2 linked regions of the Homo sapiens genome follow. Each later gene encodes a partner of the first gene's protein in a complex. Each region holds a gene or a part of one and is shown on either strand. Other genes may lie near its edges.

What was found.
Region 2: TMEM67 (region 1) and AHI1 share a complex: the UniProt entries of both Homo sapiens proteins name them as parts of the tectonic-like complex.

Annotation. Positions count from the first base shown.
Region 1 is NC_000008.11:93,777,663-93,786,781, reverse strand, and holds part of TMEM67 (meckelin isoform 1 precursor), read right to left. Parts: intron 6,190-9,119; coding exon 6,035-6,189; intron 5,909-6,034; coding exon 5,800-5,908; intron 5,125-5,799; coding exon 5,038-5,124; intron 4,388-5,037; coding exon 4,322-4,387; intron 1,561-4,321; coding exon 1,404-1,560; intron 560-1,403; coding exon 436-559; intron 1-435. UniProt on the Homo sapiens protein: Required for ciliary structure and function. Part of the tectonic-like complex which is required for tissue-specific ciliogenesis and may regulate ciliary membrane composition.
Region 2 is NC_000006.12:135,493,994-135,503,271, reverse strand, and holds the start of AHI1 (jouberin), read left to right. Parts: upstream 1-5,531; 5' UTR 5,532-5,689; intron 5,690-6,022; 5' UTR 6,023-6,084; intron 6,085-7,373; 5' UTR 7,374-7,458; intron 7,459-7,562; exon of another isoform or gene 7,563-7,733; intron 7,734-9,278. UniProt on the Homo sapiens protein: Involved in vesicle trafficking and required for ciliogenesis, formation of primary non-motile cilium, and recruitment of RAB8A to the basal body of primary cilium.

The sequences.
Region 1 (9,119 bases):
ACGTAGGATCATAATGAGATTATCCTAGGAAGAGGGAGGTGTTGAAAATTAATCTGGGTAAACCTAGAACAAAAGCCACTGAAAGAAATGAGGACAGGGGAGTCCTAAACATTAACAATCATCTGGCAAGCTCTTCCTGAAACACCAATTTCAGCTCACTGGTATTTACTTAGCTATTCGCAACCCATTCTAATTCAGCAGGTCTAGAGTGGGACCTATAATGTGCATTTTGACCTAACTCCTCACACTCTTCTGTTATAGTTTTCCCCCTTGGCTATTCACTTTTACTGGTCTATGCCAATCTACACATACACCTAAAATAACCCGACCAACTGTTCCAATTCAGTTGTCCTTATTGTTTTCATCTACTAATGACTGGCAAACACTTCCATTATGATATTTTCCCATAAATAATATCATTAGACATTTGTTTACCTCAGTGATATTTGAGTAGCAACTCGAATTACTCTTGGCTGAGTTCCTAAGTCATTTTCTCGTCCACTTACTGCATCCACTAAGAAAATGCGCCGAGTTAGAAGCCACTTTCCAGAGTTGCTGTCTTTTATTATAAAAAGAAAAAAGTTTACTGCACAAATTTAAAACATGAAATTATTGTTTTAGATAAGATGGCTGCAAAAAGCTACTAGTATAAGAAACACCTGACAATGGCGTTCTCTAACTCATGTGAATGTCTTCTTTTGTTTTTTTTAGACAGGGTCTCACTCTGTTGACCAGGCTATAGTGCAATAGCATGATCATGGCTCACTGCATGCATTCTCAACCTCCTGGGCTCAAGTGATCCTCCCACCTCAGCCTCCAGAGTAGCTGGGACTACAAGGGTGCACCATCACACCAAGCTAAATTTTTTTTTGTAGCAACCAGTTCTAATTATGTTGCCTAGGTTGGTCTTCAATTTCTAGGCTCAAGCAATTCTCTCGTCTTGGCCTCCCAAAGTGCTGCGATTATAGGCGTGAGCCACCGTGCCTTGGACTTGAATGTCTTCTGATTGAACTTTTCATAAATTTGGAAGGCTTTCCCCTGCAAATTACCTGAAAAAGCAGAATTTTATAACATGAATAACAACAAAAGAAACTAATTTGTCCAAAAAAGCATATTCGGGACAGCTTGACGAAAAAGCCCCAATTTACGGTTCTACTAATGTTTCTCAGGATATACCCTCAGCAACAGTATAATTTCTTAACAATATGTCTGGCAATAAAATTAGCAACAGTTTCTAAGTCCACCAGCAATTTATTGTTTCATTTTTTGGCACACTGTATAGAACCACATAAGAGAGAATTCATGACCTTTCTTATAATCAGTGGTTTATTAAATTATCATGTAGGTTAACTTATTTGTTGATTTCTGCTCAGGGAAAAGAGTGGTATGTATGGATGTCTTACCTTGGTTCACAAATATCTTATTATGTTGAAGATTTAGGTTTAACACAGGCACAGCCAAAATATATTGATGTTGATTTTCATCAGTATATTCAAGGTACACATCATAAAATATAGGAGTGGGAAAGTCAATTAAGATCTTAGAGATAGGAATCTCACACTGAAAAGTAAAATTAAAAATAAAAGCACATAAAACAGCAACTTAAAGTACTAAAAAGTAAAAAATAAAATAAAAGATCACAATTGAAAATTAGCAAGCATATTTATTATCTTCAGAGTGTTTTTCTAGTTTTGCAAAATGTCTTTATACTACCTTGTTTATATGCATTTTCATTTGTCTTCCAAAACATGAATACTATGATTATTTTATAAGGACCAAAACCACTAACAGTAAAGTACTGCTTTGAGAATTTTGAGAACTTCTTGAGCTTCAACTCAGATGAAGGAGGTATACCTTCATTCTCAATATTAAGGGTACATCAGTGAAAAGGTTTAAAACTACTGTCCTACGGGATAAATTCCCAATTTTTTCTCCTGCTGTACAATGATGTATATGATCTGGCTTCCATTAACCAAGCCAGGCTTATCTCTCATTACTCCCTATCAGTCTATGGTGGTCCATTCATACTAATCTACTTGTAGTTTCTAAATATGCCATACTACTGTATGTCTCTCTGTCATTACAAATGTGATTTCTGTCTGATATTTCCTTCCCCACTGTGTTCTTCTGGAAAACTCATATTCATTATACAAATCCAAGTATCACTTACTTTGTGAAGCCTTTCTATACTTCCCCAGGAATCAGTACCTTGTACATACCTATAGAATGACACTTATCACATTCTTTGCAATTCTTTGTCTATATAACTGTTTTGCCCACTAGTCTATGAAGGACTTGAGAGTTAGCCAGGTTCAAAGAAATAAAAATGCTTTTTAAACCTGATGATAGAACATTGGCTCCACAGTTTATGTGACACAAGTCTTTGAGTAAATTACCTAATTACACGGCATAATTTCCTCATCTGTGAAGCACAGATACTATGTATCTCATATAGTTATTTTATGAATCAAATGGGATAATAACGATAAAATGCTGAGCACACAGATAGGCATTACATAAGTGTTGATCTTTCTGGCCTATGTTAGAAGCACAATAACATTTATTTTAACAACAACAGCAACAACAACGTGTAAATCATTTCTGACAAAAGAAGTAAATTCATGTTCATGGTAGAAAATTTGGAAATTATAAAAAAGAAAAAAATAATTTCTAACCCCACTATCCAGAGGTAACCACTGTTAGTAGATTCTTCCAATCTACTTTCCATAATGGTATTTTTTGTTATGGTTTTGTTCTATGGTTGTGCGTGGAACTTTATCAAGATGTACTTTTACAGACTAATGAATTGATATGGTTTGGCTGTGTCCCCACCCAAATCTCATCTTGAACTGTAGTTCCCATAATCCCCATGTGTCATGGGAAGGACCCGGAGGGAGGTAATTGAATCATAGGGGCAGTTACCCTCATGCTGTTCTCATGATAGTGAGTGAGTTCTCATGAGATTGATGGTTTTATGAGGGGCTTCTCCCCCTTTTGCTCAGTACTTCTCTTCCTGTCACCACGTGAAAAAGGACATGTTTGCTTCCCTTCCACCATGATTGTAAGTTTCCTGAGGCCTCCTCAGCCATAGTGAACTGTGAGTCAATTAAACCTATTTCCTTTGTAAATTACCCAGTCTCGGATGTGTTTTTATTAGCAGCGTGAGAACGGACTAATACATGCATGTTTTTCAAGTATTGAATGGCTCATAATATTCCTTAGTAAAATAATGTAATTTCAAAATAGGTATCAAAGTAAGGAAAGTCAGAGAAGGAAGGAGAAAGAAAAGAATGGAAGAAGATGAAGGAATTATTTTTATTTGTTATGAGCGGGTAGAAGAAGGGAGTAACTTTTTATTAGTCATTTAAAAAAAGTAGTATTTTTACTTTATTTCAAAATGCTCAGAAGTAAGCATTACTTTTTAAGACCTATAAGCCTAGAAGCAGATAAACAATTTATTATGAAGATGTAATATTATATGATGTTTAAGACTCTAGGCCGGACGAGGTGGCTCACACCTGTAATCCCAGCACTTTGGGAGGCCAAGGCTGGTGGATCAGTTGAGGTCAGGAGTTTGAGACAAGCGTGGTCAACACAGCAAAACCCCATCTCTATGCAAAACACAAGAATTAGCTGGGTGTGGTGGTACATGCCTGTTGTCCCAGCTACTCAGGTGGTTGAGGCACGAGAATTGCTTGAACCCAGGAGGCAAGAGATTGCAGTGAGCTGAGATTGCACCACTGCACTCCAGCCTGGGCAACAGAGCGAGACTCTGTCTCAAAAAACAAAAAACTCTATAGATAACAAGGTGCTCTGTTTATGCCACTTAAATTAAGCTTTTATGTACCCAGGTAATAAAAAATTATATTAAATAGTGAAATTATTCTTCACTATTAAAAACATTTCCGGCCAGGCACGGTGGCTCATGCCTGTAATCTCAGCACTTCGGGAGGCTGAGGAGGGCAGATCATCTGAGGTGGGGAGTTCAAGATCAGCCTGATCAACATGGAGAAACCCTGTCTTTACTAAAAATACAAAAAATTAGCTGGGCGTGGTGGCACATGTCTGTAATTCCAGCTACTCGGGAGGCTGAGGCAGGAGAATCACTTGAACCTGGGAGGCGGAGGTTGTGGTGAACTGAGATTGCACCACTGCACTCCAGCCTGGGCAACAAGAGCAAAACTCCATCTCAAAAAAAAAAAAAAAAAAACCAAGAATAAAAAATTTCCAATCTCAAAAATTTAAGTATTATTCCAATTACTGCTGACATGATATTTTGAAAAATAAAGCTAAAATATAGACTAATATCGTTCAAACTTACATTTTGTTGGTAGGTTGTTCCAAATGAATAAGCAGCATTTAGCCTTGTCTCTGTGTCTGGACAAAGCTGCAGCAAAATAATACAACAGATAAATCTCACAAATGTTTTCTATTCTTATACTCAAGAGTTCTCAAACCCGAACATGGATATATGCTCTACATAATACTTATTTAATGTATCAAGGATATGAAAAGTTAAGGGAACATCTGTTATAAATGAAAGTCATAACTTTAAAGAAATAAAACTTAGCCAGGCATGGTGGCTCATGCCTGCAATCCCAGCGCTTTGGGAGGCCAAGAAGGGCGGATCACGAGGTCAGGAGATCAAGACCATCCTGGCTAACATGGTGAAATCCCGTCTCTACTAAAAGTACATAAAAATTAGCTGGACGTGGTGGCAGTCGCCTGTAGTTCCAGCTCCCAGCTGAAGCAGGAGAATGGCGTGAACCCGCAAGGCGGAGCTTGTAGTGAGCTGAGATCGCGCCACTGCACTCCAGCCTGGTTAAGAAAGCGAGACTCCATCTCAAAAAAAAAAGAAAAAACAAACAAACAAACAAACAAACAAAAAACTTAAGAAAGTCTAATTTAAAGCATCAGAAAAAAAATCAACTGTAGTATGTAACTGATGCTTTATTCATACAATAATCTTTTCCTCTTGGCTTTGTCTCAGGCAAAAATAATGCATGTTATTAATTCTTTAACTAGAATCATGCTTACCTGTAAAACACCTCCTTCTAAAGTTTGCCACTTGAGAAAATTTCCTCTTATATCATAGGAAGCAGCAACAAACTTCAGTTTTGTATTCTGATTAAAGAAAACGAGCAAAATCAGGTCAAATACTCTGAAAGTAATACAATATCCTATAAAGAAATTTTCATTGTTGACTGATCTTTTTTGTTGAAAAATTACATTCAATTATCTTTATTTTGAGGTTCAATTAATCTATTTCTATGACTAAATAGACCTGAAAGAATTAGACTGGTTTTTTGCATGAAAATTATTATTCTAGAATTGAGAGGCAGCACTAGTGACAGATAGCCTCCTTTTGAACCTGTTAAATAGGAGGCAGTGTGGGAGAATAGTATCTCCTCATTCTGGAAGGTCAAAAAGTTACAGGTAGGAATTTGGCCCTGTGAAGTGCTGAGCAATGTCACAGAGCCCCAATCAATCTTTGGAAGCACTTCTTTAAGGTGTGGAAAAAACAGGACAGAGATTTTTTGCATTTGGTGATGAAAACTGCTCTTCCCAACCCTACAAGTACAACTTCTTGCCATAACCACACAATCCAGAAGTATCCACATATTCAGTAAGATAGCTAAACTCTATACTATTTAGTTCTTATGAGTTGTTGACATTTATATTTAGTTTAGTAACTGAGTTTGTACCAACAACCTAAAAAGGCAAGAATTGTAACTTTATTACCTTTTAAAATTATAAATCAAAATGTAGTTATCCTCTAATGATATTAGACACTTTTACCTGGTTTTCTCCTTTAAAACTGAAATTTGTAGGAAGAGAGGTAGAACTGAGCACTTGAGGTGCTAATCCTAACTGGTCTCCATAAAACAGCCAAGGAAGATTCTGTCTCCTATAAACAGTTACAACTGTTTTAATAATGGAGAATAAATATTTCTTATTATTAGTATTTGTGAATATATTAATAACTGCACTGAATTCAGTCAAAATAACATTTCATCAATCAAAATATCCTTACCAAAATGAAATAGAATGAACAGTGCTCAGTCCAGCAGTATTTTCAAAGATAAACTGAAATAGTCCACATGCATCAAATGTGGCAAAGTCGTAAGAATTCATGTTCATCACACACATATTTCCAAGAGCTTGACAAGATGTTAGATTGGCATATACCTACAACAGAACAATGGCAAAGAAAAGTAACATGAACCTGAACAGTCTATGCAAAAGTTGATATAAAAATTTTACTTTGTGCAGGTCTGTTCCAAGATGGCCGAGTAGGAACAGCTCCGGTCTGCAGCTCCCAGCATAATCAACGCAGAAGGCAGGTGATTTCTGCATTTCCAACTGAGATACCTGGTTCATCTCATTGGGACTGGTTGGACAGTGGGTGCAGCCCATGGAGGGCAAGCTGAAGCAGGGTGGGGCATCACCTCACCCAGGAAGCGCAAGGGGTTGGGGGATTTCCCTTTCCTAGCCAAGGGAAGCCGTGACAGACTGTACCTGGAAAAATGGGACACCTCCACCTAAACACTGCGCTTTTCCAATGGTCTTAGCAAACGGCACACCAGATTACATCCCACGCCTGGCTCGGTGGGTCCCACGCCTACAGAGCCTTGCTCACTGCTAGCACAGCTGAGATCAACCTGCCAGGCAGCAGGCTGGCAGGGGGAGGGGTGTCTGCCATTGCTGAGGCTTGAGTAGGAAAACAAAGCAGCCGGGGAAGCTCCAACTGGGTGGAGCCCACCGCAGTTCAGCAAGGCCTGCTGCCTCTGTTGACTCCACCTCTGGCAGCAGGGCATAGCTGAACAAAAGGCACCAGAAACTTCTGCAGAGTTAAACATCCCTGTCTGACAGCTCTGAAGAGAGCAGTGGTTCTCCCAGCACAGCGTTTGAGCTCAGAGAATGGATAGACTGCCTCCTCAAGTGGATCCCTGACCCTGTGTAGCCTAACTGGGAGACACCTCCCAGTAGGGGCCGACAGACACCTCATACAGGTGGGCGCCCCTCTGGGACGAAGCTTCCAGAGGAAGGATCAGGCAGCAATATTTGCTGTTCTACAACCTCCGCTGGTAATATCCAGGAAAACAGCGTCTGGAGTGGACCTCTAGCAAACTCCAACAGACCTGCAGCTGAGGGACCTGTTAGAAGGAAAACTAACAAATAGAAAGGAATAGCATCAACATCAACAAAAAGGACATCCACATCAAAACCCCATCCACATCAAAACCCCATCTGTAGGTCACCAACATCAAAGACCAAAGGTAGGTAAAACCATAAAGATGGGGAGAAACCAGAGCAGAAAAGCTGAAAATTCTAAAAACCAGAGTGCCTCCTCTCTTCCAAAGGAATGCAGCTCCTCACCAGCAACAGAACAAAGCTGGATGGAGAATGACTTTGACAAACTGACAGAAGTACGCTTCAGAAGGTCGGTAATAACAAACTTCTCTGAGCTAAAGGAGGATGTTCGAACCCGTCGGAAGGAAGCTAAAAACCTTGAAAAAAGATTAGACAAATGGCTAACTAGAATAAACAGTGTAGAGAAGACCTTAAATGACCTGATGGAGCTAAAAGACATGGCACAAGAACTATGTGATGCATGCACAAGCTTCAGTAGCCGATTTGGTCAAGTGGAAGAAAGGGTATCAGTAATTGAAGATCAAATTAATGAAATAAAGCGAGACGACAAGGTTAGAGAAAAAAGACTAAAAAGAAATGAGCAAAGCCTCCAAGAAATATGGGACTATGTGAAAAGACCAAATCTATGTTTGATTGGTGTACCTGAAAGTGATGGGGAAAATGGAACCAAGTTGGAAGACACTCTTCAGGATATTATCCAGGAGAACTTCCCCAACCTAGCAAGGCAGGCCAACATTCAAATTCAGGAAATACAGAGAACAAAACAAAGATACTCCTTGAGAAGAGGAACCCCAAGACACATAATTGTCAGATTCACCAAGGTTAAACTGAAGGAAAAAATATTCAGGGCAGCCAGAGAGAAAGGTTGGGTTACCCACAAAGGGAAGCCCATCAGACTAACAGCAGATTTCTTGGCAGGAACTCTACAGCCAGAAGAGAGTGGGGGCCAATATTCAACATTCTTAAAGAAAAGAATTTTCAAGCCAGAATTTCATATCCAGCCAAACTAAGCTTCATAAGTGAAGGAGAAATAAAATCCTTTACAGACAAGCAAAGGTTGAGAGATTTTGACACCACCAGGCCTGCCTTACATAAGCTCCTGAAGGAAGCACTAAACATGGGAAGGAACAACCAGTACCAGCCACTGCAAAAACATGCCAAATTGTAAAGATCATCAATGCTAGGAAGAAACTGCATCAACTAATGGGCAAAATGACCAGCTAACATCATAATGACAGGATCAAATTCACACATACCAATATTACACCTTAAACGTAAATGGGCTAAATGCTCCAATTAAAAGACACAGACTGGCAAATTGGATAAAGAGTAAAGACCCATCAATGTGCTGTATTCAGGAGACCCATCTCACGTGCAAAGACACACATAGGCTCAAAATAAAGGGATGGAGGAAGATATACCAAGCAAATGGAAAGCAAAAGAAAGCAGGCATTGCAATCCTAGTCTCTGATAAAATAGACTTTAAACCAACAAAGATCAAAAGAGACAAAGAAGGGCATTACATAATGGTAAAGGGATCAATTCAACAAGAAGAGCTAACTATCCTAAATATATATGCACCCAATACAGGAGCACCCAGATTCATAAAGCAAGTCCTTAGAGACCTACAAAGAGACTTAGACTCCCACACAATAATAATGGGAGACTTTAACACCCCACTGTCACTATTAGGCAGATCAACAAGACAGAAGGTTAACAAGAATATCCAGGACTTGAACTCAGCTCTGCACCAAATGGACCTAATAGACACCTACAGAACTCTCCACCCCAAATCAACAGAATATACATTCTTCTCAGCACCACCTCGCACTTATTCCCAAATTGACCACATACTTGGAAATAAAGCACTCCTCAGCAAATGTAAAAGAACAGAAATGACAACAAACTGTCTCTCAGACCACAGTGCAATCAAATTAGAACTCAGGGTTAAGAAACTCACTCAA
Region 2 (9,278 bases), on another chromosome or scaffold:
TGCTTATTATAAAAATTTCCAAACACACAAAGGAAAAAGTATAATGAAATACTAGGTACCTACCAGCCAGCTTCAACAACCATCAAAATTTAGATATACATGTGTCATTTCCTCTCACCTTTTAAAAAAATCTAGAATATTTTAAAGCAAATCCTGGACACCTTATCATTCTGTTCTGTGCACGTAAGTCATACTCTACATAACCACACCAACATTATTTTACCTAATGAAATTAATAAACATTTCTTAACATCTTCTAAATATTTAGCCCATAACAAAAAATCTGATTGCCTAAAACATGTTTTTCTATAGTTGGTTTATTTAAATTAGAATCCAAACAAGGCCCATTCATTCCATCTGTTATGGCTCCAGAACCCTCTCCAATAGTGTCATGGACTCAGTTATGCCCCAGTTCCAAATGCATATGTTGAAGTTCTAACCTTAAAGTACCTCAGAATGTGCCTGTATTTGAAGACAGAGTCTCTAAAGAGGTAATTAAGTTAAAAGGAGGTCATTAGGGTGAGCCCTAATCCAATATGACTCTGTCCTTATAAGAAGAGATTAAGATACGGGCAGGTACAGAGGGAAGTGCAGGTGAAGACACAGGGAGACAACAACCATCTACAAGCCAACAAGAGAGTCCTTAGAAGAAACCAACCCTGCAGACATCTTTATCTCAGTCTTCTAGCCCCCAGAATTGTGAGAATATAAATTTCTGTGGTACTTTGTTATGGCTGCCCCAGCAAACTAATACAAGCAAACTAATACAGAAAACTAATACAAGCAGTAAAGCCAACATCTGTTCTGATTGGTAAATGCACATCCTGTAAGGGATTTAAATATTTTGCATATCAGTCACATTTAGGCATTATATTATTCAAGAAATTCACTATTCATTATGTATTAAATGTGTCGAATACCCTAAATCTATTTTATTCCTAAACGGTTCAATTTATATACATACATATATATATACACACACACACACACATACACATATATGTGTATATATATTTATACATATATGTGTGTATATATACATATATGTGTGTATATATATACATATATGTGGATATATATTTATACATATATGTGTGTATATATGTTTATACATATATGTGTGTGTATATATATATATATACACACAATTTTTTTCATGGATACTCAGCCAATTTTTAGAATTATTACCATACTACCACTCTTAATTGTTTGCCTCTCCTAGGATAGCGGAGTGCCCTTGGTCTTGCACTCTCGACTAATGAGAGCTAAAGCAACATATCTGCTTTATTCAGTTTGAATGGGGCTCATTAATATGTTTAGTATATACTCAACTGCCTGCTGAACATCCCACTCCATACATCCCATTGCAACTAAACATCTTTTCCTCCATGCTTGCTCTTCCTGATTTTTTGTCGTTAACTGATTAGCCATTCTCCACCCAGTTACCTGAGCCAGAAACCTCGGCACCTTTCAAACTTCTTTTATAGTTTTAAAATAATTATAAACTTACAGAAAAATTGCAAGAATAGTATAAAGAACTTCTGCTTTCGCCCAAATTCCCTGTTAACATTTGCTTTATCATTTTCTTTATGTATATTATTTATGTTTATATTTATTTACAGTATTTATGTATACTTTTTTCCTGAACCATTTGAATAGGTTGCAGATATGAAGCCTCATCACCTTTAATACTTCAATATGTATTTTCTAAAACCAAAAATATCTATGTCACTATAGTCATCAAAATCAGGAAATTAATATTGTTAAAATACTACCATCTAATCCAGAGACCCCATTCAAATTGTTAGTTGTCCCAATAATATCCTTATAGCAAAAGGATTCAATTCAGAATCATGTATTCCACTTAATTGTCATGTATCTTAATTCTCCTTCAATCTAAAAACGTTCTTTAGTTGTTCCTTTGTCTTTCATGACCTTGATCTTTGAAGAGTACAGGTCTATTATTTTGTAGAATGTCCCTCAATTTGGGACATTTGGGTTGTCTGATTTTTTCCTCACGATTGATTCGGATTACACATTTTTGGCAGGAATGTCACAGAAGTGTATTCTAAGTGCCTCTAACCAGGACATACACGATGCTGATTTGTCTCATGACTGCTGATGGTAACTTCGCTCACCAGTGCCAGATTTCTACACTGTCAAGTTTTCTAATTTTTCTCTGTGTAATTAATAAGTATTTGCTGGAGAGATACTTTGAGACTATATAAATATTATATGTCTCTTAATACTCTCACCCTCTAGTTTTAGCATACACTGATGATTCTAGTCTGAATCAACTGTTACTATCATGACTGCCAAATAATGATGTTTCTACATATAACACTGTCTACATTCATTACATTTAGTTGGCATTTTTATGTAAGGCAGAGCTTTTCTTTATCCTGATTTTTCAAAAAAATCATTTATTCATTTTAGTATGGGCTCAAATATTCCTATTTTATTTAGCGGACTATAATCCATTAACATTATATTGGTGCTCAGATTGACCCAGATGTGGCCAGTGGTGGCTCCTTCAAGCTGGCTTCTGTGACCTTTTGATATGTTTCTTCATTCTGTATTAACTTCCTTAACTTCTGGTGCAACAAGAATTTTCCAGGCTCCTGTTCTAAAATCAACCATTTCTCCAAGGGACCCAGTTACTTTTAGTGAATAATACTGTTCAGAAACCAAGATCTAGGCACATGTGCTCATTGCTTCTAGTATACCATTACTCTGAAACCCTTTCAGCAGATAGAGCTAGGAAGAGCATAATAGATAGATACGCACACACATACAGACATACTTTCCTCTATATTTATTTTTACATATGTTTATGTATATATTGAAAACTATGAGTTGACACTGACATATTCAATTCCAATTCAACATCACCACAAAGGTCACTGTGGAATTCTTCCTCTCTCAATTTGTAACGTCCTTCTCTGTCAGTGAGAAACCTGGCTCCCATTAGACCCAACATATTTATTTCCTCACTCCCCTTTCATGCTTGCCACCTCTTTACTTGCCAAGGGGAAGGCAAAACAGCTGGTCATCGTTTTTTATTATTTCTTATCATTCACTCTTCCATCCAATCAATCACTAAGTCCTGACATTTTTACCTCCTAAAAATTTCTCAAATTGGTCCATTTCTCTCCATTCTGATTTTTCTTAGCCTTGACCATGCCACCTTTGTCTCTTACATGGCTTACAGCAACGGCATCTTAAATGGTATTCCCAGATCTAGATTTGCTTCCTTCCTGTCTGTTCTCCACCCTGCAGCCAGAGTTATCTTTATGATATTAAAATTTGAAAATTTCACTCCATAAAATTCTATAGTGGTATTCCACTGACCAATACTGTCTGGGTCTCTTCATAGCTTGTTTAACTCTCTTGTTTTGTCTCCTCCAAAAGCCCCTAGTCTCATTCTCTACCTTTTAGTTAGCCAACTTGAACTTTTTTTTTTTTTCTTCCAGTTCTTGTATTATACCAAACTTTCTTGTAGTGAACACTATACGCCACCTTCTTCTACCTGGAAACCCTTCCTAACCTGGACAACTCTACACATTATTTTGGTCTTTACTTAAATGTCACTTCTGCTATGAAATATTCCCTGACCTCCCCCACCCCACTGCACCTCTGCATGCTACTGTAAATGGAGAAGCAAGAGATGATAACAGGGTTACACATCCGCTAGTCTGGGGATTGTATTCTGAAACTAACACCCTACTAAGAATGAGCAGTCAGAGTTATAACTTCCCTTTGGAAAAGCAGGTACTTAAATGCAGTTGTGAGGACAGATGAAAAGTACATAAAACACCTACAATGCATACCTCCTAGAAGGAGCTCAATATATGTTATCCATTATTCATTCAACAAATGTTCATGAAATGCCAACTATTTCATAGACACTGTGGTAGATGCTGGGGATAGAGAAAATACAAAGTAAACTATGAAACTATAGAATGAGCATCCAAAGTCTAATATATAGAATGAGTATCCGAAGTCTAATAGGGAGTAGGAGTGTTTGAAGGAGTCAGTCAACCTGCTTAAGATTCAAAGGATGGACAACATTTGGCTGTGATGCAGGAGTGTAAAAGGAGGAATTTTCAGGAAGAGAGGACAATATGAGTAAGGACGGGGCGTGAAAGGCTATGGATTGTTTTTCATGGTACACATAATTCAATGTTGCATAAAACTGCATGGTACACATGATTCAATATTGCATAAAATTGGAACAAGAAGCTAACGAGAGATGAAACTAGTCAGGGAGATGGAGAATCTTGTATCCTAGGCAAAGTAATCATTTTCTCTTACAGATTGCCTTTCAAAAATTTTCAGCAGGAGAGTGCCATTATCCGATTTACATTTTTAGTCAGGTCATTCTGATAGCAGTGTGGAGAATTTAAGAGTCAAACTGGAGTCAGAGAACTGGTAAAGGGCCCATCTGAGGAAGTTAAAAAGAGAGAATGGATATGCTTTGGCATAAGATGCATTTAGGATACTCTACTGTTCTTACTAAAACACTGGGAGGATTGTGGTGGCTTACAGCAAGATAGAAATCTAGGAGAGTATGTTTAGAACGGAAAGTTGAACAGCTCAGTTCGGTACGCATTGGATTAGTAATCTTTCTCGTTGCTTCCTCACAGGATTTAGGGAAGCACAAGACATATAGTTTGTAAGGTGTGGCAATGTCAGTAAGAATGGAAAAGCTGGCCTCCATAAACTCTTACTGTACAAATGAAGCAACAGCTTACAGCGGGTGGCTGTAGGTACAGGAAATGGCCTGTATTCACGAGTGTATTCACGAGTCCACGAGTAGCGCATCTAGTATTTTTCCAGCCCTGGTGACTCAGAGCTGAAGATGGCGCCTGTGGCAGAAATCAGAAAAGTGGGAGGGAGCATTAGGTGTAGAAAAGGATGGCGTTTTAACTTTTGTTTTGTTTTTCACACACAGGGAGATAGCTCTAAAGGAACAGTGGATAATTTTTTCTTAAAATTTTGTCTGTAGTACAACTTCATTTTCCACGCCTTAAAACCATGTTTTCTTTTGTGGGCGCGATCGCGTGGGGAGTGACAAATCTGTTTCTTTGCCTCATTCATTCATTTTCTTATTCTGGGCGGCTTCCATGACAGCCTCCCCAGTTTTCCTTTGCCCAGTCAGTTTTTCCCTGCGCTAGCTACAATTCTAAGGCGAAAAGAGCATTTTCGGAGGTGAGGGCGGGGAAAACTCAAGACTCTGTAGGGGCACCCGCGCATTTCCGGGTCCCTTACCGCTCCGAGTGGAGGAGACTGTTCCCGCTCGCGTGGCCGGGGAGGCGGGAGCCCCCTAAGTTCCCTGAAGCTCGCGCCCGCCTGCGGCCTGAGGGCCCCCGGGCAGGCGCCGCACGGCCCCTCCTCCTGGAAGAAGGCGGTGGAGGCGCGGGGACGGGGCCGCGGTCTTCGCCTAGAGCGCGGGACGCATCGGTCGCCATGGGAACGGCGGCGTAGGCAGGCGCTGACGTCAGCAGGCGGCGCGCTGTCCGCACTGCGGCACAGAGCCGCGGCTTGCTTTCAGGACACGGGTCGCTGGCGGGTTAGGTGGCTGCGTGGCCGCCTCACTTCGCGCACGCGCCGCTAGGCTGGGGGAGTTGATTTGCACTGCTCCGGGTGTCGGCTCCGGCGGGACGGGCGGTTCTGCGTACCCCTCTCCGTGAGTACATCATGGGTGCGCTGGTGGCGGGAGCGCGGGCCGGGGTGCTCGGCCTGCCCGGCCCTCTCCTGGGCGGCGTGTCGGGGCTGCTGGAGTCCGAGAGCGCGGAGGCTGATAGCGTAGTGACCGACGAGCGTGGGCCGGGTGTCCCGGGGGAATGCGATTTCTGAGAGTCCTCACCGTACTTTTGCGCTTCTTTCACTGGTCTCCGTGTCCCCGGAGAGTTGAGCATGGTGCTCTGATAGAGAATTCAATCTTTGCCTTTCCTACTCCCGATTCTTATTTAAATGCTTTTAAATCAGATGTGTACTGAGTGTGTTTATTTCCTTTTAGAGTGTCAACCTGGGGCTGAATCTTCAACCTGTCAAAGCCTTCTTAATTATGTCTGAGAAAAGGTGATCAATTTGTTATATTTATAAGAGCCAAATTATATTAATAGGGTTGTTTCGAGATGCATAAAAATAGAACAAAAATGTAGACCATTTAAGAATCCTTATCAAAGGTTGTGCTGCGTTTAGCATTCCTGTAAAAACATCTATTGTGAAAATAAAGCTTTCCCCTTTCTTTTGAGAAAGAGATGCCAACGATTTTTTCACCTGTTGCATTAACAGTTGCTGTTACTGCTTGGGCGTTAGGAGGAAGATTGCTTCTTATGAGTACTCTGGGAAATTTTTTAAAGAATGCTTGAAAGAAATTCAAATACCAAAAGTGTTTTTAAACCATACCTAGAATCTTGTTTATGAGGAATAATATTTATGAAGTTAGAATCTTGTTTACTTATGAAGAATCTTGTTGATTTATTCATTGAATTTTGTATACAGGATTTTTGTTTGTCTTTTTTTCCCTTGCGATAACATTTGGTTAAGGAGCGAATTATCAAGCCTCTCAGTTTTTTCTCCCAATGATATTGAGCCACATATTGGCTGATAATCAGGTTGTCTGTAAAATAAAATGAGATGAAATGTAATCCATTTAATTTTCCTGTGTAATATCTCTTAGACGCTCCTGTGAAAGGGTTTGTGAGGGAGAAGTTGTAAAATAATGGAATATATAAGAATCAGAGGTGTCTTTTAAAGTCCTATCTGATTTTTTGCAGAGGTTACTAATCAAATATTAGCCGTTAATTCTATCATGTTTGCTGTAGTACATATTAAGATTTAGAGATGGCTGAGCGCAGTGGGTCACGCCTGTAATCCTAGCACTTTGGGAGGCTAAAGTGGGTGGATCACTTGAGGTCAGGAGTTCAGTATCAGCCTGGCCAATGTTGGTGAAACCCCATCTCTACTAAAAATACAAAAATTAGCTGGGTGTGATGGCCCACACCTGTAGTCCCAGCTACCAGGGAGGCTGAGGCAGGTGAATTGCTTGAACCCAGGAGGCGGAGGCAGCAGTGAGCTGAGATTGTGCCACTGCACTCCAACCTGGGCAACAGAGCGAGACTCTGTCTCCAAAAAAAAAAAATTAGAGATGATTTCTGTACTGTATTTGCTGTGTTATCATTACATAATATTAGTATTTATTAGTTTAGTTGTGTATTAAGCTGTTAATAGTAAATAAGTATATGATTTATATATTTTATTTGTAATTATTTACTTATTTTTAATACAATAATAATGGACATAAAGTAATTTTATTGCAATGTACTGATTACTTTGCTTTTTGGTATTTTCTCTTCTCCTTACAGTACTAAAATAGGTGCCATTTTAAATTCCCAGACAAGGAAAAACCAAGGATTAGAAATTAAGTAGCTTGCCCAAGGCCACACATCAGTAAGTGGTGACACTAGAGCTCAAGCCTGAGTCTTTTTTACTCGCTTTGCTTTTGCTTCTCTTCACTTCGCTTCTCTCTTCTTCTCCTCTCTTTTCTTTCATAGTGGCAGATACATAACTATAAGAGAGCATTGGCTTGGTCCTCCAAAGCTAGCAGTTTGGTGGGAGTTACAGAACATTTTACCAGGGTGAAAATTCAAGGTTGAGGTAGAGGGAGCTACAAAGATTAAGGCACCCTGGAAGCACAGAAGAGAAGTTCTTAAATGCCCTTCAAGGTGAGAATGCTCTCTAGAGAAGATATCATTTGCCTTTAAAGGATAGTGAGGAGTTTGTTAGAGAGACAAAGGAGGAAGCACATTTTTCAGGGGAGGGGATATGTGTGTAATGATACAAAAGCAAGAGAGAACTTGGCACACGTGAAGGCCTGCAGGTAGTTTCACATGTCTGGAACACAGTGGATGTGTGAAGGGGACATTTCATAAATGGCCTTGGACCTCACTGGTAAGGACTTGATATTTTTTTCAATGTGCGATTGGGAGCTAGTGAAGAATTTTAAGCGAAGAAACGACACCATCACATTTGAATTTTAGAAAATTACACTAGTTGCTGTGTAGATGATGATTTTTTTTTTAAGGGAAAGGTGATAGCGGCGTGGAAACAATCTTAAAACAAAAAGCATAATCCTTCCACAGTGTTTTTGTCCCTCAGAGTTACTGTCTCATGTCACTGCCTTTGGGGGTGATGGGAAGACAGTTGGAAGAATTCTGTAAAGAATTGTCTACATGTCCCTTCTACAGGTGTCACCTTCCATTCATTCCTTAGCCCCAGCCTGCTAAGTTTCTGCCCCTCTATAAACAGCTTTGACACACGTGACTTCCTACTTGCAGATTCAGTGGACTTTCTTCAAAACCTCCAGCCCCTTTTGATGCCACACAGTATATAGGCAACATCTCCTTTAAAACTTGGGTTTGCTTCTGTAATGCTTCTATCTCCCAGTTTTTCACCTATCTCCCTGATTTTACTTTATATTGTAGGCTCACAGGATTCTCATTGGCTTTTTATTTTCTTGGAACTATCATATTTATAAATAACTCCCAAATCTTCAGCCTATTGTCTCCCTGCTGGATTAGTAGATTGCCTAACAAACATAATATGATTATATACGTAAACACACACACACGTGACAGTAATAACAGTTGTTGTTTTTGAAGGGCTTGCCATGTGCTAGGCATTGTGCCTAGTATTTTATTTGCATATTCTCATTTAATCTTTATAAAAACACTGTGAGTGATTTACTCTTATTATTGTGAAAGATTAGGAAGTTGATATCCATAGAGGTGAATCTGCTGGCAGATAGAACTGGTATTTGGATCCAAGGATCTGAAAATGGAGCTGATGCTTGTAGCTGCTCAGTGCCCTTCAGATACCCAACTCAACATGACCCATACTAAGCTCAGTGACTGCACCCTAACAACCTGTTACAGTTATAGCTAACATTTATTGTTGCTTCTTCTGTCTACGGTACTGTTCTAAATCATTTAACCCTTACAACAACCCTTTGAGTCGGCACTGGTAGGGTGTTTTTATAGATGAGGAAACAAAAGTCACGCAAGTGACTATGGAAACTAATTCTAGGACATGGATTTTAAACTACTGCCCTGTACTGCATTATATTACAGTGTAATGATACTACTAATCTACTTATTCTAGTTCTAGAAACATGGGAATTATCTCCGATTCTTTCTCCTGCCTCTTCATTAGTTATTTAATCTTTCTAAAATATTACCTCACTCCATCACCTGGAGCGCACTGGTGCAGTC